Linked DNA regions of Homo sapiens. The main gene of each other region encodes a partner of the protein of the gene in region 3 in a complex. Each region holds a gene or a part of one and is shown on either strand. Other genes may lie near its edges.

Evidence for each region.
Region 1: the proteins of PDZK1 (region 3) and SLC15A2 are in contact, whole or in part, in a crystal structure (PDB 6EZI), measured with the Homo sapiens proteins. Residues at the interface, in NP_001188254.1 of Homo sapiens: Asn386, Gly387, Tyr388, Gly389, Phe390, His391, Leu392, Asn393, Ala394, Ile395, Arg396, Gln407, Tyr436, Glu437, Val440, Ile443, Gln444; in NP_066568.3 of Homo sapiens: Glu723, Thr724, Lys725, Lys726, Thr727, Lys728, Leu729.
Region 2: the proteins of PDZK1 (region 3) and AKAP10 are in contact, whole or in part, in a crystal structure (PDB 3TMH), measured with the Homo sapiens proteins. Residues at the interface, in NP_001188254.1 of Homo sapiens: Asn386, Gly387, Tyr388, Gly389, Phe390, His391, Leu392, Asn393, Ala394, Ile395, Arg396, Phe402, Lys404, Tyr436, Glu437, Val440, Ile443, Gln444; in NP_009133.2 of Homo sapiens: Pro655, Leu656, Glu657, Lys658, Ser659, Thr660, Lys661, Leu662.

The regions. Positions count from the first base shown.
Region 1 is NC_000003.12:121,889,542-121,897,405, reverse strand, and holds the start of SLC15A2 (solute carrier family 15 member 2), read right to left. Parts: upstream 3,006-7,864; 5' UTR 2,930-3,005; coding exon 2,825-2,929; intron 1,001-2,824; coding exon 913-1,000; intron 19-912; coding exon 1-18. UniProt on the Homo sapiens protein: Proton-coupled amino-acid transporter that transports oligopeptides of 2 to 4 amino acids with a preference for dipeptides. Transports neutral and anionic dipeptides with a proton to peptide stoichiometry of 2:1 or 3:1.
Region 2 is NC_000017.11:19,953,824-19,960,847, forward strand, and holds part of AKAP10 (A-kinase anchor protein 10, mitochondrial isoform 1 precursor), read right to left. Parts: intron 4,749-7,024; coding exon 4,191-4,748; intron 1-4,190. UniProt on the Homo sapiens protein: Differentially targeted protein that binds to type I and II regulatory subunits of protein kinase A and anchors them to the mitochondria or the plasma membrane.
Region 3 is NC_000001.11:145,704,351-145,711,405, forward strand, and holds the start of PDZK1 (Na(+)/H(+) exchange regulatory cofactor NHE-RF3), read right to left. Parts: upstream 3,019-7,055; 5' UTR 2,967-3,018; intron 2,474-2,966; exon of another isoform or gene 2,314-2,473; intron 1-2,313. UniProt on the Homo sapiens protein: A scaffold protein that connects plasma membrane proteins and regulatory components, regulating their surface expression in epithelial cells apical domains.

The DNA of each region.
Region 1 (7,864 bases), on a different chromosome or scaffold from region 3:
AATACAGGATCAGCACAGCTGTAGTGGGAAAAAAAAGGAGGCGTGGGGAGACAAAACAAGATAGATGCATTAAAGTGACTTATGGAAAAAAATATTTAATCTCTGGTCTTTATAATGTGATTTTGGCCTTCAGCACTCCTATCAGTGACATGACTGAGAAGTGACTGCCAGGCAGTAGAAGCAGGGCCCCATGGGAGTTGTGGGAGTGAATGGGACTATGTTGAATGTACAAATATAATACTCCTCCCTTCAGTCTATGTGCACCCCTAGCATCATTTAGGCCAACCATGAACATAACATGGTGCTTCCAATATCCCTTCCCTCTCCTCTCCTTCCCAGCAACAAGATGATAAGACCTCTTATCTGAATTCCATTCTTCATACCTGTTCCTCAGGTATGAGCCCTTAGCCAAGAGCTGTTAGCTCATACCTGAGGAACAGGTATGAAAAATGTAACTGAGATAATGAGAGCTTTCCCTCCCCCCCCTTTTTTTTTTTTTTTTTTGGAGATGAGTTCTTGCTATGTTGCCCAGGCTGGAGTGCAGTGGCCATTCACTGGCACAATTACAGGTGCCTGATAACCTTGAACTCCTGGGCCCAAGCAATCCTCCTGCTTCAGCCTCCCAAGTAGTGGCGACTACAGGCACATGCCATCATGCCCAGCTCCACCCACTTACCCATTCTCAAAGTCTATGTTCTGGTTTGTCTCAGGCCTTTCTGATCTTGGCCTACATATTAGGTGAAATCCTATGAGAGATTTATTGGAAGTCTTGGCCAAAGTAAAGGACCAATTTGGACCAAGGCAGAAAGAGTGGACTCGGGAAATAAGTGCATATAAAGAGACCAGGCTGTCACAAACATGGGGTGAGGGTGGGTGGAGGAGAGTAGGTAGGACTCTTGGACACAAAATTACCTTTCATTCCATAATAGGAAAAGCGCTCGCAGAATTCATTCACCACAATGAAGGCAATGCTCAGTGGATAGTTGGAGCCACAGATTGTCTATTCAACAAGAAGGCAATGATTCAAGCATGAGCTGTTTTTCCCTGTTTCAACAATTAGATTTCTTCAAAACTGAAAAATTCATTTATTTCAAATCATCTTGGTAGGTAATGGAGCAATGGTCTCTACTCTTCATGACACACCTATTAGGTAACACTAAAAGTGCTTATATTACTGATTTAGAAATAATAGAAGCTACTCTGAATATTATTTTGTTTCTTATTTATTTTACATGGACTTGCTCAAATATTCCTTGGACCTGCTCATCTTCCCACAACTACTAAATGAAAAGCCTAGGGCTCTGGGGCAGAAGAATGGTGATATTTACTTCCTAGGAACAGAATAAAGAGGTAGCCTATGGAATACCTGATATCCAAGCAGTGAGATTCAGATGTCAGTCTCTGCTTAGCCCCACTATGGGGACTCTTGTCCCCAGCTGTTCTGTTTGCCATGCTGGGAGGAATCCTGGCAATATGATAGCTTCTACTTCAGAGGCTGCTGGAGTCAGGCACAGAGCCCAACATGGAGGACAGAGATTCCTAAGGGTAAGCTAATTGATCACCTTGACTTTAGGCAGAGTTCTTAAATCCTGTAAAATTAAATGTCTACTCTTCCTACTAAAGAGATTCTATAACATTTTCATGATAATCCTACTGGACATTAAAAGAATTATGCTTTTCATGTAATATATCAGTCAGAATATAAGGAATGTTATGTTTTATTTTAATTCCCTATCTATTACAATAGACCAACTAACATGAGAAGAGACATAGAGGTATCTGTCCTCAGTACAGTCAAATCTTGTAAGATTTATATTGCCTCATTTCATGAGAAGTATATACATCTTTGCAAGTAGCCCTAAATTCTTTGGGACCAGAAGAGATATCATTAACTAAAAAAATAGGCAAAATAATAAAGTAATGTATTATTCTTTTAACCCTAGGGATATATATAAATGATCCTCCTAAATATTAATATATTTTAATGTTTTATAATAGCTTGTTTGAAACATACAATGAACTGGGCTTCTTACCTTTGCAGCTCACAGCTTGAGAATTATGCAATCTGGAGTTTAGCCGACACACTGTTAGCTAGTTAGGCAACACTGCCACTGGCTGTGTTAACATACTGATACTGGCATTGTCACTACACCTGTCTCAAAACCTCTGTTCTGTTATTCCAAAGAAATGAGAATAACATCACCTTTTGGCCCACTGTAAGAACTCAGTAAATTTTGGCTATCATTACTATATCCTCCCCACTTACAGAATTTTAGTGTAAGAATTGACTGAGATGATGAGTTTAGAAGTGCTTTAGCGAGTATATAAATGCAAAACATTACTATTCTCTGTTTCTCTGTCCTATCTCCCACAGTAAACTGGGAACACATAGTAACAGAAATTGGATCTATTCTGAAACTTCCATTGGTGTTCAGCAGAAGACTCTGCACACAGGGAGAACTAAGGGCAGAGTTTTTATATTGGTAAAGAAAGAACAATCACACACAGTTCTTCAGACAAGAATGCTTGCCAAGTTTCCCTGGACATTCGAATTGCTTTTTTCCCCCAGGGAAACAGAATATGCAATGAAATTCAGCAAGTCCCTGGATCCCAACTGAAGAACTTTGACTACCTCTTCCTGCTGCTTTGTCTTCTTATGTAAAGGAAGCTTCTGTTTAGATTTGGTTTCAGGTGAATTCTAAATCCAAGAGAGAAGCATTTTAATACCCTAATACAGCTCAGCTGGAAGCTCCAGAGCCCAAGGAAGAGAGCCAAAAGAGGGAGGCCATTCCTCTCAGAGGCAGGATTGAATCTAAGGACTCACCGGAGATGGCTTCTTTGGAGGGCTAGGTGGTCGAGGTGGTACCTCTTCAATGGAGACAGGTGAAAAAAGAGTTTCCTTGGACTCATTTTTCTGGAAAGGATTCATGGCTGGCTCCTTACTCTCTCTCTCTCCTCAAGCATTTGGCTTTAGTAGGCAGTTAGGACAGCTGCCAGCCTACTCTGAAAAGAAGGACTGGGAGGGGGAGCTGGTGGCTTCAGCAACTCAGTTTAACTCTGTGGGTGTCAGCTTCAATAGCTTCCTGATCCAGAGCAAAGCAGGAAGCTATAGTTAAAAAGAATGTGTAAAAGTACAGCACAGCAAAGTGAAAACATGCCAAAGACAGAATGAAACAATGCTAGAGAACTGATTAGAAAGTCTATGTTTAAGAAAGATTATCTTTGCAAAGGAGTAGAAGATAGTTAAGAACACAACACCTCGAGCACAGATTGAAAAACTGATTCCATGGTCAGGCGCGGTGGTTCACGCATATAATCCTAGCACTTTGGAAGGCCCAGGCAGGCGGATCGTTTTAGGTCAGCAGCCTGGCCCACATGGTGAAACCCCGTCTCTACTAAAAATACAAAAAAAAAATTAGCTGGGTGTGGTGGCGGGCGCCTATAATCCCAGCTACTCAGGAGGCTAAGGCAGAAGAATCACTTGAACCTGGGAGGCGGAGGTTGCGGTGAGCTGAGATTGCACCATTGCACTCCAGCCTGGGCAACAAGAGCGAAACTCCATTTCCAAAAAAAAAAAAAAAGAAAAACTGATTTCAGGGTAACAATAGCTGTAATTTATTGAACATCTACTATTGAAAGGTTAATATATATGAATTACATCTATGTTGTATATCTATAACATATATATTTATTCTAATTCATATTACTATCCCCATTTTATAGAAAGTAATGTTCCCAGAGGTTAAGAAATTTGTTCAAAGTACCTGTCCACTAAGTGGCAGATCTGGAATTTTCACTATGCCATGACAGCTGGGAAAAGTGGAGTTAGTGTCAGTCATTATTCAGGTATGGAGGTTACATAAATGGAATGTAGGAATGCAGAGGATTAAAATGCATTGGAGAAGGAAAGTCATCATAAAACTGAGTTTGGAAGATAAGAAAGATGGTGAGTTTTGGCTGGGTGCAGAGGCTTACGCCTGTAATCCCAACACTTTGGGAGGCCGAGGTGGGCTGATCACAGCTCAGGAGTTCAAGATTAGCCTGGCCAACATAGTGAAACCCCATCTCTACTAAAAATACAAAAATTAGCTGGGTGTGGTGGCACGCGCCTGTAGTCCCAGCTACTCAGGAGGCTGAGGCAGGAGAATCGTTTGAACCCAAGAGGCAGAGGTTGCAGTGAGCCGAGACCCCACCACTGCACTCCAGCCTGGGCGACGGAGCAAGACTTGAAAGAAAGAAAGAAAAGAAGGGAAAGAAAGGAAAGAAAGAAAGAAAAGAAGGGAAAGAAAGGAAAGAAAGAAAAGAAAAGAAAGGAAGGAAGGAAGGAGACTTTTGTTTTCAACATCATAAAAGTTCAGCTAGAAATAGCCTATAAGCAATTAAAGAGGTGGGGCTAAAGAAAATGAGAGAAAAGGATTGGTGATATACATTTGGGAACCATTGTTCTTCTTTGCTAAAGTCACTCCTTATATTTTCATTTTCTCACTTCAAGATTAATCTATTCTTTCATTTAATAAATAAAATTTAATTTGAGCAAAAATTGTGAACCAGTTACTTTCTAGGTACTGTTGTGAACACCATTTTCCTTAATTATACATTTAGTCCTTATCAGAAGAGGAACAAGAACAAACATCATAATGCTAGGTGCATTTTATGCTGTGTTATTTTTGTCAAGCCAAAGAAGTAAAAGGATAAGAAAAGAGCATGGTGCCCCTCTAGTTGTTTGTCAAAAGAAAAGGGAAAAGAAAGGCTAGAGAGCTATAAAAGAAATAAGAAAAATGAAGACTAAATCAACAAGGTCAGGCAACATCAGAATGAATTATTTTATTTGAAAATACAAGAGAGAAAACCTATAACTCTATCCCTCACAAAATTTTTACTTTAACTATTCAAATAATTTATTGACAAATAGGGCCAGGATAAACTGTCTTTTCCTCTCTAAACTTTAACTCAGACTTTGACCATATCTTCTCAGCTTCTATTACACCCCTCATTTCTACTGTCTCCCACCAACCTTTACCCAAAGAAGAGTCCAGCTTCATTTCTGACTGTGGCATTAATAATTAAGGTATAGTTATTCTTTCAGGAAGCACTGCCATTTCTGAATTGGTTTGGTTAATGACTTTGGCTGGAAAATAAATGGTCAGAAGTTACTAGTCAAGTTAACTAGCAGAGGCACAGATGCCTTGAAGATCCACTTATGTTGTGGCTTTCCTTGATCTGGCAGAGTAGATGGAATAGCACCTGTATGCAATGTACCAATTTATTTGTGCTCATAGGTATCCCAAATACTAAACTTTGGAGTATTGGCAGTGGTTTTCTGACACTCCTTTGTTTAGACAAAATTCTTCTTTTGATTATGGCAGTATAATGATAGTATTCACAGAATCGAATAATATCAGAGATGGAAGGAATCTTAATCTTGTCCTATGTGAGTGAAACTTCCCTGAGGATAAGAATCATTTTCCTTTGGAAATTCCAATTCAGTAGATCTCGGTAGGGATCTAAGAATCTTTGTTTTCAACGAGCACCTCTAGCAATTCTTACGCTAGGAATTTGGGAAACACTGGTCATAAATTCTCTCCTATTCTATTTCAGAGGAACTCAGAAGGGACAAAGCAAGGACTGGAACCCTAGGCTCCCAAGGCATAGTCTTGAGCCATTTATATAATATTAAGATGGCTCTTAAATCCTATTATTTTGCTAACATCAGATAGAAGGAGAAAGAGAAGAGATAAAAAGAAAGCACCTCCCAGACAGAAATGAGCACCAACTATTCTGAGACAAACAATAAAAGTGAAAGAATCTAAGTATCAGTGATGAGTAAAGAATATTTGTGTCCTTAGTGATTACAACATCAGAAAACATTTATTATGACATATGATAAAGTTTTAGTTATATATACACAAAAGTAGACTGCTGCTCTAAGTTAATAGAATCTAATATAGTCAGAGAGAAGAGGAAAATATGAAATTAAAAGGGAACATATATTTAACAAGTTCTCTAAATTAAAATACACAAAAATAAATTGTATCAAACATCAGTCACAAAGAAATAGAAAAGGGAAATCTAAGGAATACATTTATATATTTATTTATATAAATAGATTTAGGAATAAATCTAACAAAAGATCTTCTAGACCTCAATATTAAAAACTATAAAATTTTACTGAAAGAAATTGAAGAAGATCTAAATAAATGGAAACATACCATGCTTATGAATTGGAAGGCTCATATTGTAAAGATGTCAACATTTCTCAAAACATTCTACAGTTCTAAAACAAAATCCCAGCAGGTTTTGTGAGTATAGAAAATGACAAGATGACTTTTTAAAGTCAACTTGGAAGTGCAAAGAGCCAAGGATAGCAAAGTCAATCTTAAAGAATAATGGTGGAGGATTGTATTACCCAATCTAAGACCTATTTTAAAGATAGTTATTATATCAGAGTGGAATTGACACAGATAACATAGGGCAACCAATGAAACAACACAGCGTTCAGAAAGTGATTCACACACATAATGTATATAACAAAGATGATGCTGTAATACAGTGAAGGAAATGATGTTGATTTCAATAAATAAACACCATTTGAATATCCATACCCCCTAAATTATTTTGACCCTTATTTTACAACATACACAAAAATAATTTCTATATAGATTGCCTATCTAAATGTTAAAGTAAAAAAAAATGTCTTTAGAGGAAAACATAAGAGAACATCTTTATGATTGTGGAGTAAGTCAGCATTTCTTTTTTTTCTTTCTTTTTTTTTTTGAGACGGAGTCTCTGCTCTGTCGCCCAGGCTGGAATGCAGTGGCATGATCTCACTGCAACCTCCGCCTCCCGGGTTCAAGCTATTCTCCTGCCTCAGCCTCCTGAGTAGCTGGGATTACAGGCACGCGCCACCACGCCTGGCTAATTTTTGTATTTTTAGTAGAGACGGGATTTCACCATGTTGGTCAGGCTGGTCTCAAACTCCTGACCTCGTGATCAGCCCACCTCGGTCTCCCAAAGTGCTGGAATTACAGGCATGAGCCACTGTACCTGGCCAGCATTTCTTAAATAAGATATAAAATATGGTAACCATGAAAGAAAAAAAAGAGATGTTGGACAATATTAAAATTAAGAACTTTTGTTGACCACTCTGCAAATTGTCAAAAGACAATTTACAGAGGGGAAGAAAATATTTGTGTTACATATATCTGTCAAAGGATTTGTGTCCAGATTATATAAGTAACTGCATAAATCAATAACAAAAAGATTAATAGGTAAATGGAAAAATATTCTTTTGCCTGGGCGACAGAGCAGAGACTCCGTCTCAAAAAAAAAAAAAAGAAAGAAAGAAAAATAGTCTCCACCTTTCTGGACGGAACTAATGTATTTCTTACATATATTGATTGATGTCTCATATCTCCCTAAAATGTAAAAAACCAGCTATGTCCCAACCACCTTGGGCACAAGTCATCAGAACTTCCTGAGGCTGTGTCACCAGCTAGTCCTCAGCCTTGGTAAAACAAACTTTCTAAATTAACTGAGACTGCCAGGCCTGTAATCCCAGTACTTTGGGAGGCTGAGGGGGGAGGATCACTTGAGGTCAGCAGTTTGAGATCAGCTTGACCAACATGGTGAAACCTCATTTCTACTAAAAATACGAAAACTGGCCAGGCGTGGTGGCCGGCGCCTGTAATCCCAGCTACTCTGGAGGCTGAGGCAGGAGAATCGCTTGAACTGGGGAGGCGGAGGTTGCAGTGAGCCCAGACCCCGCCATTGCATTCCAGCCTGGGCAACAAGAGCGAAACTTCGTCTCAAATAAATAAATAAATTAATTAATTAACTAAGACATGTCTCAAATTTTCAGGGTTCA
Region 2 (7,024 bases), on a different chromosome or scaffold from region 3:
AAGTTCGAGACCAGCTTGGCTAACATGGTGAAACCCTGTCTGCATTAAAAATACAAAAATTAGTCGGGCATGGTGGCACACGCTTGTAATCCCAGCTATTTGGGAGGCTGAGGCAGGAGGATAACTTGAACCTGGGAGGCAGAGGTTGCAGTAAGCCAAGATCTCACCACTGCACTCCAACCTGGGTGACAGAAGTGAGACTCTGTCTCACACACAAAAAACAAAACCCTAGGCCCAGATGGCATCACTTCCCAATTCAACCAAATATCTAAAGAAGAAATGACACCAATTCTACACAATCTCTTCTAGAAAATGGAAATAAGAGTAAAAATAAAAACTTCCCAATTCGTTTTATAAGGCCAGCATTACCCAATTTTAAGACTTACTATACAGTAATTAAGACCATGTGGTATTAACAAAGGAATAGACACACACATCATGAAACAGAAAAAGGAGTCCAAAAACAGGCCTAGACAAATATGGCAAAAGTACAAAGGCAATTCAATGGAGTAAAGGTTGTCTTTTCAACAAATGGTATTAGAACAACTAGACATCCATATGTAAAAATAAACAAAAAACAAAAAATCTGACGTAACCCTCATACTTATACGACATTAACTCAAAAAAGATATATATCTAAACGTAAAGTGTAAAACCATAATACTTTTTTTTTTTTTTTGAGATGGAGTCTCACTGTGTTGCCCAGGCTGGAGTGCAGTGGCGCGATCTCGGCTCACTGCAAGCTCCACCTCCCGGGTTCACACTATTCTCCTGCCTCAACCTCTCAAGTAGCTGGGACTACAGGTGCCCGCCACCACGCCCGGCTAATTTTTTTTTTTTTTTGTATTTTTAGTAGAGATGGGGTTTCACCGCATTAGCCAGGATGGTCTCGATCTCCTGACCTCGTAATCTGCCCACCTCAGCTTCTCAAAGTGCTGAGATTACAGGCATAAGCCATGGCACCTGGCCAACCACAATACTTTTAAAAGGAAACATATGAGAAAATCTTCATGACCTTTGCTTAGGCAAAGGGCTCTTAGGTGTGACTCTGAAGGCACAATCCATACAAGAAAAAAATGACAAGTTGAATGTAAATTTAAAAAAAAAAAGTCCTGATTGGGCACAGTGGCTCACGCCTGTAATCCCAGCACTTTGGGAGGCCGAGGCAGGTGGATCACTTGAGGTCAAGAGTTTGAGACCAGCCTGGCCAACATGGTGAAACCCCATTTCTACTAAAAATACAAAAAAATCAGCCGGGTGTGGTGGTGCGTGCCTATAATCCCAGCTACTAGGGAGGCTAAGGCAGGAGAACTGCTTGAACCCAGGAGGCGGAGGTTGCAGTGAGCCGAGATTGCCTCACTGCACTCCAGCTCGGGCGACAGAGCAAGACGCTGTCTCAAAAAAAAAAATAAGAAAAAAAAAGAGAAAAGGCAAAGCTATTGAGACGGAGAAAGATCAGCGGTTGCCAAGTGTTGGGATAGAGGTGGGGCTTGACTTCAAAGGTGAAGGAACTAACTGTTCTTTACCCTTATAGTGGTGACAGTTACAGGAATCTATGTATGTGTTAAAACTGATACAAGTATACATTTTAAAAAGGTCAAACTTACTATATATAATATTTGAAGATAATGAAAAAGGGAAAAATGTAACTAATGCTCTTTTAATAACTCCACTGCTATTTCTATTTTTATTGAAAATTACCACTAAAGCAAAGACAGTTTCTAAAAACAATAAATGTATTACAATTACAGAAACATAATCCTAGCACTTTGGGAGGCTGAGGTGGGCAGATCACAAAGTCAGGAGTTCAAGACCAGCCTGGCCAACATGGCGAAACCCCATCTCTTCTAAAAATACAAAAATCAGCCAGGCATGGTGGTGGGCACCTGTAATCCCAGCTACTCAGGGGGCTGAGGCAAGAGAATCGCTTGAACCCGGGAGGTGGAGGTTGCAGTGAGCTGAGAGTACGTCATTGCACTCCAGCCTGGGTGACAGAGTGAGACTCCATCTCAAAAAAAAAACAATTACAGAAACAGACTTTGGACTTCCATTTCCAGAAACAGGTTAGAAACTCTTCCCAATACTGAATTCTCTCAAAATGTTTTTTAAAAAGGTGAGTTTGTGTTAAACTAAGGAAAATAGTGGGAGGCAGAAACAAATACAGGCAGTGCCCTTATCTTAAACATTTGGGGCCAGTAGTATTCTGGAATTCAGAATTTTGGAGTTTTACAGGGACAACACATTAAGTTTAACAGAGAGCATATTAATACTCCAGCACCATCTGGGACAATACCCCATAATCAAACACCATATTTCTACAGTAAGTATAAACCTGTACTCATACAGGATCAGTACGAGCACCCAAGACAAAAATTCAGTTTTAAGTGGTACCAGAAGGGTAGTGACCCAGGCCCCAGGTGCATGGCAAAAGAAAATGCAAAACACCTGAAGTAACTTAATTTATACAGAGTACACAGAGAATTCCCACAGACAAAAGTCCAAGAAACATGTTCACGGCCAAAAATCACTAAAATCACAAGCCACCAACAGTCTGAATCCGAAGAAACAAAGAAATGCTGAGTCAGGTCCACAAAAAACTGTAGATAGCAGAATTATCAGACAAATATACATTTAATAAAACTAAATAAATAAAAGATGGGATCAAAAGTGGGAATGAAGGGTGAAAGGAATAAGAAACTACAAAAAATGATCCATAGAAATAAAAAATTCAATAACTTTTTTTCTTTGTTTGAGCTGGGGTCTTGCTGTGTTGCCCAGGTTGGTCTCAAAACTCCTGGGCTCAAGCAATCTTCTCACCTTAAGCTTCCTGAGTAGCTGGGAGTACAAGTGTGTGCCACTTCTCCCAGCTTACAGTAACTTTGCGATGAAAATAACATGCCGTCAGGTGTGGTGATTCATGCCTGTAATCCCAGCACTTTGGGAGGCCGAGGCAGGTGGGTCACTTGAGGTCAGGAGTTCAAGATCAGCCTGACCAACATGGTGAAACCCCGTCTCTACTAAAATATAAAAATTAGCCAGGAGTGGTGGCGGGCGCCTGTAATCCCAGCTCCTCGGGAGCCTGGTTGAGGGAAGGAAGGAGGGAGGGAGGGAGGAAGGAAATAACATGCTGAAAACTTGATTCAGTAGCAGATTAGACCTCATTTTAGTTCACTGAGAATGAGTGAACTAAAAGATCTGAAGAAATCACTTAGCCCTTTAAGACACAAAGAACATTTAAGATGAAAAAGAACATGAAGGCTGTCTAATCAAAATCCCAGGTGATAATTAAGAGTATATAATTTCTAAACTAATAGAGAAGAAAAAAAAACAGGTGCTCTTGTCAAAATGCTTCTAGGTCCACATTTACTGTACAACCTAGAGGAAGTTACCTAACCTTTCTAAGCCCTGGTTTTCTCATGTGTAAATAAGATAATCAGTCCGGGCGCGGTGGCTCATGCCTGTAATCCCAGCACTTTGGGAGGCCGAGGCAGGCGGATCACAAAGTCAGGAGATCGAGACCATCCTGGCGAACATGGTGAAACCCCGTCTCTACTAAAAATACAAAAAAATTAGCCGGGTGTGGTGGCAGGCGCCTGTAGTCCCAGCTATTTGGGAGGCTGAGGCAGGAGAATGGCATGAACCCGGAGGTTGCAGTGAGCCGAGACCGCGCCATTGCACTCCAGCCTGGGCGACAGAGCAAGACTCCATCTCAAAAAAAAAAAGATAATCATGCCTACTACCTGCACAAAGGTCTTGTGACTAATAAATAAAATCCAAATATACACTAAGCACTGAACTTAATAAATGTCACTTATTGGCAATTTTTAAAAATTTTTTAAAAATTTTATCTGCAAAGTGCAGTAAAATATTAATAAAATTAAGACCGAGGGAGGAAATAAGGCTATGTGGATAATGGTTTGATGTCAAAATCAGTGGAGGGGAAAAGTAGGACATTTGACCCTTCATTTACTAATTCTGATAACACACTTCTTAGAAGGTCCAGTCACTCCTGCTCCTTTTCCATACACTGATCTGACTCTACTACACTCTCCAAATTCTCCCAAATTTACAAGTAGTTAGAGGAGAAAAAAAATATTCCAATCATTTTATTCCTCATCTGAAGTTCTGCTTAGTAAATTAAAAAAAGAAAGTGAGACACATATGTACACACAAGAAAATCACATACTCACTTTTCATTAGTTTTCCTGACAATTCTTTTAGTGGAGAAGCGGGACTATTTCTACTGGCTACTGTAAGTGTAGAGGAAGATTCTTGGGTTTCCATGGAAACTTGGTGAGTTCCTGCTCTGGCCATTTCAAGACGGAGAGAATGGGCACTGTCACATTCCTGGGAAAGCAGCAAGTGATTCTGAGTGCTGTTAGTTCTATTATTCAGGTCAATTCCTTCTGAATGAGTCATAAACAACTGTGCTGAGCCAGAATCCTCCAATCTCTTATCAAGAGAATCAGTTAAAAAAGACGCTGTAGTTTCATGCTTTTTAGATGGAGAGACAGGCTCAGCCAGTGAGCTCTGCTTCACTGTGTTTAGACTGTGTGCTCTTATTCGCGACCAAGTTGTTGAATGAAAACTTTCAGCCTCTAACCAAAATTTCACCAAATGCTCCATTCGCCGAAGTTCCATGAATTGAATGAAGTAAGGGAGGACAATAGTGTCGTGCAAGACTTGTTCAAGGGTCTTAGAAAGGCTTGATTTGGTCTCTTGAGTCTGGTAGTCCAGACAAGATCTGCCTAAAAGATAGAAGCAAAAGAATTAGCAGTTCAGCAACAAATAATTTCAGATTGACAGATTAGTCAATCACTTTTAGCAACAACTGGTACCAGAGACCTTGAATAAAGTTTACTTCCTAGCAACTAAAGTAAATAAAAAAACTACAAATACTATGCTTTTGGTTTCTAAACAAAGTACAATCGTCCAAAACTTGCCTAAATTATTAAAAAGTTATTTGTTACTCAATAATTCTCATATCTCTTTTAATGGCAATTCAGACCATGTAAATTCTTTTTTTTTTTTTTTTTTTTTTTTTTGAGACTTTTCACTCTTGTTGCCTAGGCTGGAGAGCAATGGCGCGATCTCGGCTCAATGCAACCAACCTCCACCTCCCGGGTTCAAGCGATTCTCTTGACTCAGCCTCCTAAGTAGCTGGGATTACAGGCACCCGCCACCACGCTGAGCTAGTTTTTGTACTTTTAGTAGAGATTCGGTTTCACCATGTTGGTCAGGATGGTCTCAAACTCCTGACCTTCGGCAATCCACCCACCTCGGCCTCCCAAAGTGCTGGGATTGCAGGCGTGAGCCACTGCGCCCAGCCCAGACTACATAAATTCTTAAGAAAAAAAACTTATGATACTAGTTCCAAAGGGGCCAATAAAAATATTAAAAACTATACTCAACCTCATTAAAAATCCCAGAAAAGCAAATTAACATAAAATGCATTTTTGTCTGTCAAATTAGATTTTTTTCAAAAATTATTAAGCAGTAACAAGGGCACAGGAAAATAGGCAACACTCTCATTCGCTGGTCATGAGGATGTAAACTGGCAAAACCTTTTTGGAGGAGCATTCAGGAACAGATAGCAAAGTCTTAGCAAACTGCATTATTTTCAGTCCAGTAATTCCACTTGTAGGCACTTATCCTGAGGGAAAATTGTGGATATATCTACAAAGATGTTATGAACTCAGCATTATTCATTCATAGTAGGTTAAAGAGTAGCTTTGAGATCGTACCTTGAAAAATGAAACTAAACTTAATAAAAAATCATTTATCTTATATTTAACTAAATTTAAATTATAACCACAAGCTAATTGTTAGGAAAGACAAAAAATTTTTTTAAAAATTGGCTTTCATAGCATGATCATAAAGATGGGCATTCTTATAAAACTGACTGAGGGTTTCATCAATTTGTCAAAAGAGTTCTTCTTAATCCATTGATATTCAAATCATTTTTTTGAAGCACGTCGTGTCTTCATCCTCAGTCTTACTGTCAGTGTCAACTAGTTCATCTTTGTCAACATCACAAACTTGAGGAAATTCTGATCTTCTGTGAGGTTTACAATTTCTTTTAATTAAATTCTATGAGATAATGCTAGATTCACATGAAGTTCTAAGATACAATACTGAAAGGGCCAGGCATGGTCGCTCACGCCTGTAATTCCAGTACTTTAGGAGGCTGGGGCAGGCGGATCACTAGAGCCCAGGAGTTCAAGACCGGCCTGGGGAACATAGTGAAACCCCATCTCTAAAAAAATAATAATACCTAGAGATCCCTTGTACACTTTAGTTTCTCCCATGGTAACATCTTGCAAAGCTATAGTACAATATCACTCTAAGATACTGACAGTGATACAACACTCTAACTTGTTCAGATTTCCCCAGTTTTATCTATACTCATTCTTGTTTTTAGTTCTTTGTAATTTTATCACATTGAGATTTCTGCATCCACTGCCAAGATACAACTTCAACATCACAAAGATCCCTCATGTTGCACTTTTATAACTACACCCACTTACCCCTCTCACCTCCCTGTCTCTAACATCTGGCAAACACTAATCTTTTCATTTCTCTTAATTTCTCTATTTCAAGAATATTATCCAAACGGAATCATACTATATGTAGTCTTTAGGGACTGGTTTTTGTCTGACAGCATAATTCCCTTGATATTCATCCAGGTGGTTAAATGTATCAACAGTTTGTTCCTTTTTATTGCTGAATGGTATTCCATGGTATGAATGAACCAGTTCATTCACCTGCTGAAGAACATCCAGTTTTTCAATATTAAGCTGCTATGAACATTTGTGCACAGGTTTTTATTGGAAGGTAAGTTTTCATTTATCTGGGATAAATACAGAGTGCAACTGCTAGGTCATATGGTAATTGCATGTTTCACGTCATAAGAAACCACCAGCCAGGGATGACGGCTCATGCCTGTAATCCCAGCACTTTGGGAGGCCGAGGCGGGCTGATCACCTGAGGTCAGGAGTTCAAAACCAGCCTGACCAACATGGTG
Region 3 (7,055 bases):
AAAGCAAACCTTCTCTAGTTGCCACTAAGTGGGCTAGGGCTATCTTTTCTACTTTCCAAAACTCCTGCCATTCCCTGGGTTCCTTCATTTCCGGGGGTCATGTAATAGCAAAGCTGTCTGAAGATTATCTCAATAGCACTTAAGATGTGCTAGACACTATGTGCATTCATTTAACCCTCATAACTTCCGGAACTAGGTTCTAATATGCCCATTTGACTGACAAGGAAATAGAAGCTTAGAGAGCCTGATCTAGAGTGCAGGTTTCCAATCCCAGTGCTCATTTTCTTAATCACTTAGCCATGATACCCATCAGGCAAAGAGATTAAGGAAATCTGGGCAGTCCCTCATGAAGGACCAAAGAAAGAAGTTGCTGAGATCTTGAGGAAAACACGTCTAGCTCCAGCTTGCCACTCTCATTGCATCCCTATGCAACGAATGCAAGAATCATTTCACTAAGAAGTGACCAGAGAAACCCATTCCCATATGATTAGACCCTGGACTTCAGATGCCCTGAGAGAGGATTGGAGTCCTTCAACCTCCTTTCCTGAGGAACACCTCATCAAAGCCATCGCCATCTGCATCTATTCTTCTAGCTCCTTCCCTGCCACACTAATTCCATTTATGCAAATATGTTCTATGCCAGGTAGTGCTCAAGGGGCTGGTAATACAGCAAGTAACACAAATGACAAGATCCCTGCAGTCTTGAAGCTTAACATCTGGCAAAGGTGACAAGTAAAAGAGATGATTTTTTTTTTCTCGAGATGGAGTCTCACTTTGTCACCCAGGCTAGGGTGCAATGGCACAATCTTGGCTCACTGCAACCTCCACCTCCCAGGTTCAAGCAATTCTCCTGCCTCAGCCTCCCAAGTAGCTAATACTACAGACAGGCAGTACCACGCCCGGCTAATTTTTGTATTTTTAGTAGAGATGGGGTTTCACCATGTTGGCCAAGCTGGTCTTGAACTCCTGACCTCAGGTGATCCACCTGCCTCAGCCTCCCAAAGTGCTGGGATTACAGATGTGAGCCACTGCACCCAGCCCAAATGAGATGATTTCTGATGGTACACGCTGTGAATGATAGAGATACTGGTGGCATGGAGGTGGGAGGCTGATTTAGAAAGTCCTTCCTGGGAGGTGACATTTTAATTCATACCCCAATGACAAGGAGCTACCCTTCAAGGCTCCAGGATCTACCTTATACTTGGCCAACTGAAAAAGACATTAATGATGATCTGGTCTCAACTTCTTATTTGTAAGTGAGCAAACAGAGGCTCAATGAGATTAAAAGACTAGGACAAGGTTTCCCAAGTGACTGCAATTTGTTTCTTCTTACTATTCTACAGAGACTTTCGATATACACATTTGAAATCTAGGCATCTTACATCGTGTTTTTAACATATTCATGGTTTTTTGTTTTTTAGACAGGATCTCAGTCTGTCACCCAGGCTGGAGTGCAGTGATGCAATCACGGCTCACTGTAGCCTCGACCCCCTGGGCTCAAGCAACCCTTCCATTTCAGCCTCCCAAGTAGCTGACACCACAGACACATGCCACCATGCAGGATTAATTTATTATTATTTTTTGTAGAGACGGGGGTCTCACTTCATTGCCCAGGCTGGTCTCGAACTCCTGGCCTCAAGTGATCCTCCCGCTTGGGCATCCCAAAGTGCTGGGATTACAGGCATGAGCCACCATGCAGGACCACACATTTGTACTTATAATTTTATTTTCAGTACACTCTTGGGGAAAAGATGACAGACCTTCACTTGATCAATAATGAAATTGAGGCTCCAGTTGGCTAAGTAGTTTGTCTAATGGCCTGTCACTAGCAACTGAATCAAAACTCTGATGATTTGTATTCCAGTCCTATGTTCTTTCCCCTGGGGGAGAAGTAGCTGCCTAGCCAGTGGTCTATGAATATAAGACATCATTACCAGCAACTTCACACCCTATGGTGCAGAGAACATACAAAAGTCAAAGATAAGCACAAGTTACTATCATAACACAGAAATTCAAAGACCCTGAGTAATTTGCTGCAGACTTCAGATGACTGGACAATCATGGCCTGAGGCAGTCCCTGCTACCCCCTCTTGCCTTCTAGATACAAGACTGAAAGCTGCCCTGGTGACACATTGCAGAGATTTTAGTAAATAAAGAAGAATGTGTTTCTCAGAGCCAACGCCCAAATCTTCATAGCTGGACCCAACCCAGACCAGGAGTCTTCATAGCGAGTGAACCCTTAGGTAAGTGTCATACTTAAGTCTCATGAGTCTTCTGCTTAAGAAATAAACTACTAGTGGTTCCCAAACCTACCTGCACTGATCAGAATGATTCTGGGAGAGTTTTCAAATAAAGATCTTTCAATTCACACAAGGCCTGGAGACTTAGAAATGCCAAAGGTGAGAGCCTGGGGAATGTATGTTTTAAAATTCAGCCAGCCTGGAAATCCACTGGTTTTTCTCATGTCTTAGTGCTGCAGTGTGATACAGAGAGGAAAGATGCCTGCTTTTATTATCTAGTGGGCAAGCTAAGTTAGGCTGCATCCTTTAAAGGCTGCTTCCAGAAGAGTCTTCTCTGCTACCCAAGGCCCCTGTATCAGTAGGAAGGTCCCGGGCATATCCGCCTGGTTACCTGTGAAGTCAGTTGTCTCACTCCCTTTGGCTGCACATCAAACCCCCACACAACCCCGGGAAGGCTTTTTCTGAGGTCGGTTTACCAATTTCTTTGTGAAGCAGACCCTAGCCTACAAAGGTGAGGGGCATCTCCAGCAGAAAGAATCTCAGAGCGTGGATCATCTCTCACCCCCAACCACCGCCAAAGGGGCCTGGCTGCCTCCCCATGGGACTCTTCTCTGCCCTAGACAGCCAGCTACTGGCTTGGAAAAAGAAAAAGGGAAAAGGAAAAGAAAGAAGGTAGTTCAGGCCCCGGTGGCCAGCACCCTCAAGGAGGACACGAGCAGTTCTTACCTGGAGATGGAAGAGGAGCTGCTCTGTTCGTTCACTCAGGAATTCTGTCTCTGCAGGTGAGCATTAAGCTTGCAACTCACTGGACTTTGAACAAAGATTGATTTAAAAGCTAATGTATTTAACAGGGACATGTGGTCTGAATTCAAGTGACCTCTGTCCTGCTTCCTGCCAGCTGGCTGGGCCCTGAGCTGGAAAATCTGACAAACCTCAGCAAACCAAAAGCTCTGGCCCACCTGCCTGGCCCTGCGGGGAGGCCGCTGCTCGCCAGCCACTCCCAGAGAACAAGGAGGGGAGAGGGGGTGAAGGACAGCCAGGGAGGAGGTGCCTCCGCTTTCCTTGGTACTCTCCCTTTGGCAGATACCTTGGTTACACCCAACCAACCCCCAATCCTGTTAGGATCCTCCAGTCCCCCATCCTGGGGTCAGGGCCGAGGCTCATACAGGAGTATCCTCAATCACTGAGGCCTCCCCAAGGAGCAGTAGCCTATAAAACTCCCACCCACGAGGCCAGTAAGCCCCAGGAAATGGGGCCAAGCACTCAGGGCACCCATCCTGCTTCCCTCTGCCCTGGATTCTCACTTGTGTGCTCCCTAGGAGTTTAGCAAGCAAAGCCCTAGAGCAAGCAAAGCCCTTGTTCTTGTGTCCCAGGCTTCCTTCTTCTTATCCACTCTCTCCCCTCTCTTTTTTTCTTCTCTTTCTCACCTGATGGTGCTCTTTCTATTCTCCAGCCTAGCGATAATTGTCTTCCCCTTCACACACTCAGAGCCTCTCGGGCAAGCCCAGCAGGGTAGGTGGAAGGCATTTTTACAAACCCCTCCATCCTGCTGCCTTGCTGCCCGAGCAGTAGGCTGGTGCCCGTGTGCTCAGCCGCTAGCCCTAGCCATGATCAGCAGCTGATCCCTATCAGCAGCACCCACACAGACAATTCTATCACTGGCCTTCTCACTGACCTGAATCCTCAGCCCACAATGCAAATCAGGGCAAGAGATTGCTCCCGGCACTGAGGCAAAGCAAACCACAGGCCGAGGACTGGGTGACCTCACCCCTCTTCCACCCACACTGGAAGAGCCATTTGTCTTTGCTGGGCCTTGGCTTGGCCCCCAACAAAGACATGACCTGAGCCCATGGATAAACGGTTTAAAATGACATTGAGCAGCTTCCTCATACCAGCTTATCTTCCTCCACCTCGGGGCTAAGCCCTCCTGGCCTCCTCTATATCTTTCAAAGCAGAAGGTAGAATGGGAAAATCTGGATTTAGGATCAGAACACCTGAGTTCATCGCAATCCCAGCAATTTGTGAGGCCAAAGCGGGCAGATTGCCTGAGCTCAAGAGTTCGAAACCAGCCTGGGCCACATGGCAAAACCTTGTCTCTACAAAAGGTACAAAAAGCCAGGCATGGTGGTGCATGCCTGTAGTCCCAGCTACTCTGGAGGCTGAGGTGGGAGGATCACTTGATTGAGAGGCAGAGGTTGCAGTGAGCCGTGATCATGCCACTGCACTCCAGCCTCAATGACAGAGCGAGACCCTGTCTCCAAAAAAAAAACAACAAAACAAAAAAGAAAGAAAGAACACCTGAGTTCAATTCTGACGCCACCATTTCCCATTTCCCAGGTGTTTGATCCAGAGTAATTCATTTTTAACTCTCTGGGTCTCACCTTCATCATGTATAAATAGTTGTTATTGTATGGTTTTTAGAAATTTTTAAAAATTGCTGTTGTTGTTGTTGTTGTTTGAGATGGAGTCTCACTCTGTTACAGCCCAGGCTGAAATGCAGTGGTGCAATCTCAGCTCACTGCAACATCCGCTTCCTGAGTTCAAGTGATTCTCCTGCCTCAGCCTCCCGAGTGGCTGGGATTACAAGTGCCCGCCACCATGCCTGGCTAATTTTTTGTATTTTCAGTAGAGACAGGGTTTCACCATGTTGGCCAGGCTGGTCTCGAACTCCTGACCTCAAGTGATCCTCCCGCCTTGGCCTCCCAAAGTACTGGGATTACAGGCCTGGTGTATTCCTTTTGTCTCTGGTTTATTTCATTCAATATGATGTTTGTGAGGTTCACTCACGTTGCTGTGAGTAGCTGTAGTTCATTCATTTTCATACTAGGATTCCATTTACATGATGTCCAAATATAGGGCAGAACTTTGGGGGATTCCTGCTTAGGTGGTAACACACGACCCTAACTTCTGGTATGCTGGCAATATTCTAGTTCTTGAGCTAAGTGAAGGTTACACAGGTGTTTAAGATTAATTACCGAGCTATGCATTTTTGTTTCATGCACTTATTCTGTATAAATAATAATTAAATTATATTGAAATTTTAAACATTACAATATGTGTATAGCATACTGGAGTAAGAAGAAGCTCTTCCAGTGACCTGCCTGAGGATTTCAGCTGTGCTCAGCTCTGCATGATCTATTCAAAAATGAAAGGGATCAATATCTTGGCATGCCAATAACCTACATGTGGCACACCTGAGCAATCTGGTCAGGAAGCTTTGATCTCTCCAATTTTTAAAAATTGGCTGGGCACGGTAGCTCATGCCTATAATCTCAGCACTTTGGGAGGTTGAGGCGGGAGGAATGCTTGAGTCCAGGAGTTTGAGACCAGCCTGGGCAACATGGTGAAACCCCATCTCTACAGAAAATACAAAAATTAGCTGGGTGTGGTGGTGTGCACCTGTAGTCCCAGCTACTCAGGAGACTGAGGCAGGAGGATTGATTGAGCCTGTGAGGTCAAGGCTGCAGTGAGTCACGATCATGCCACTGCACGCCAGCCTGGGCTACAGAGCGAGACCCTGTCTCAAAAAAAAAAAAAATTAAATTGTGGTAAAATATTCATAACAAAAAAATTATCATTTTAATCATTTTGATTATACAATTCAGTGGCATTAAGTACTTTCACACTATTGGGCAACCATCACCACCATCCATCTCCAGAACTTTTTCATCTTCCCAAAGTGAAACTGTGTAGCCGTTAAACACGATTTTCTATTCCTTCCTCCCCAGCCCCTGGCAACTACCTTTCTACTTTGTTTCTACAAATTTGACTACTCTAAGCACCTTCTATGTGTGGAATCATATGCTATTTGTCCTTTTGTGACTGGCTTATTTCACTTAGCAAATGTCTTCAAAGTTCATTCATGTTGTAGCACATGTCAGAATTTCCTTCCTTTTGAAGGGTGAATAATATTCCACTGTGTACATACATCACATTTTATTTATTCGTCCATCAAGGAATGGATTGCTACCACCTTTAGGCTGCAGTCAATAATGCTGCCATGAAAATGGATGTACAAATATTTGTTCAAGTCCCTGTTTTCAAATCTTTTGGGTATTTGCCCAGAAAAGGAATTGCTGGATCATACATTTAATTTTTTAAGGAACCACCATACACCATACTGTTTTCCACGGTGGCTGCACCATTTTGCTTTCTCACCAGCAACATAGAAAGGTTCCAATTTCACCACATTCCCATGAACACTTGTTCTTTTCTGTTTTTTGTTTGTTTGTTTTTTAATTGATGGCCATTTTAATGGGTTTGAGGTGACATCTCATTGTGGTTTTGATTTGCATTTCCTTAATGATTCATGATGTTGGGCATCTTTTCACGTGCTTACTGGCCATTTGTATCTTCTTTAGATAAATGTCTATTCAATTTGCTTGCCCATTTTTAAAATCAAGTTGTTTTTGTTGTTATTGAATTGTATCATCTCAATTTTTCTTTATTATAAAACAAAGACTCAGAGAGGTGAAGTGACTTAGCCAAAGCCCCCTCAGGCAGAAACATGGCTAAAAACTCTGTGCTTTTGCTTTTGTGGCCAATGCCCTTTCTACTATACCAGTCTGCCTGGCTCAGTGGGTATCCTCACATTTTTCCTCCAACTTCAGGTCTGATTGTCCTAGTATGCATGTCCTACTACCTTGTCTTTTTAGTAGCTCATTAACTTACTCTGAGCCTGGAATTTTAAGCTCCAGTGGTTTTCTCTCCCTGTCTAGAGTCAATATTTATGACAGTCTCCCTTTCCACTCTCTCTGTTACTCTGGCCTCATCCCACCTTAAGAGGCGACTGTGTACTCTGCATACCTTTGGAGG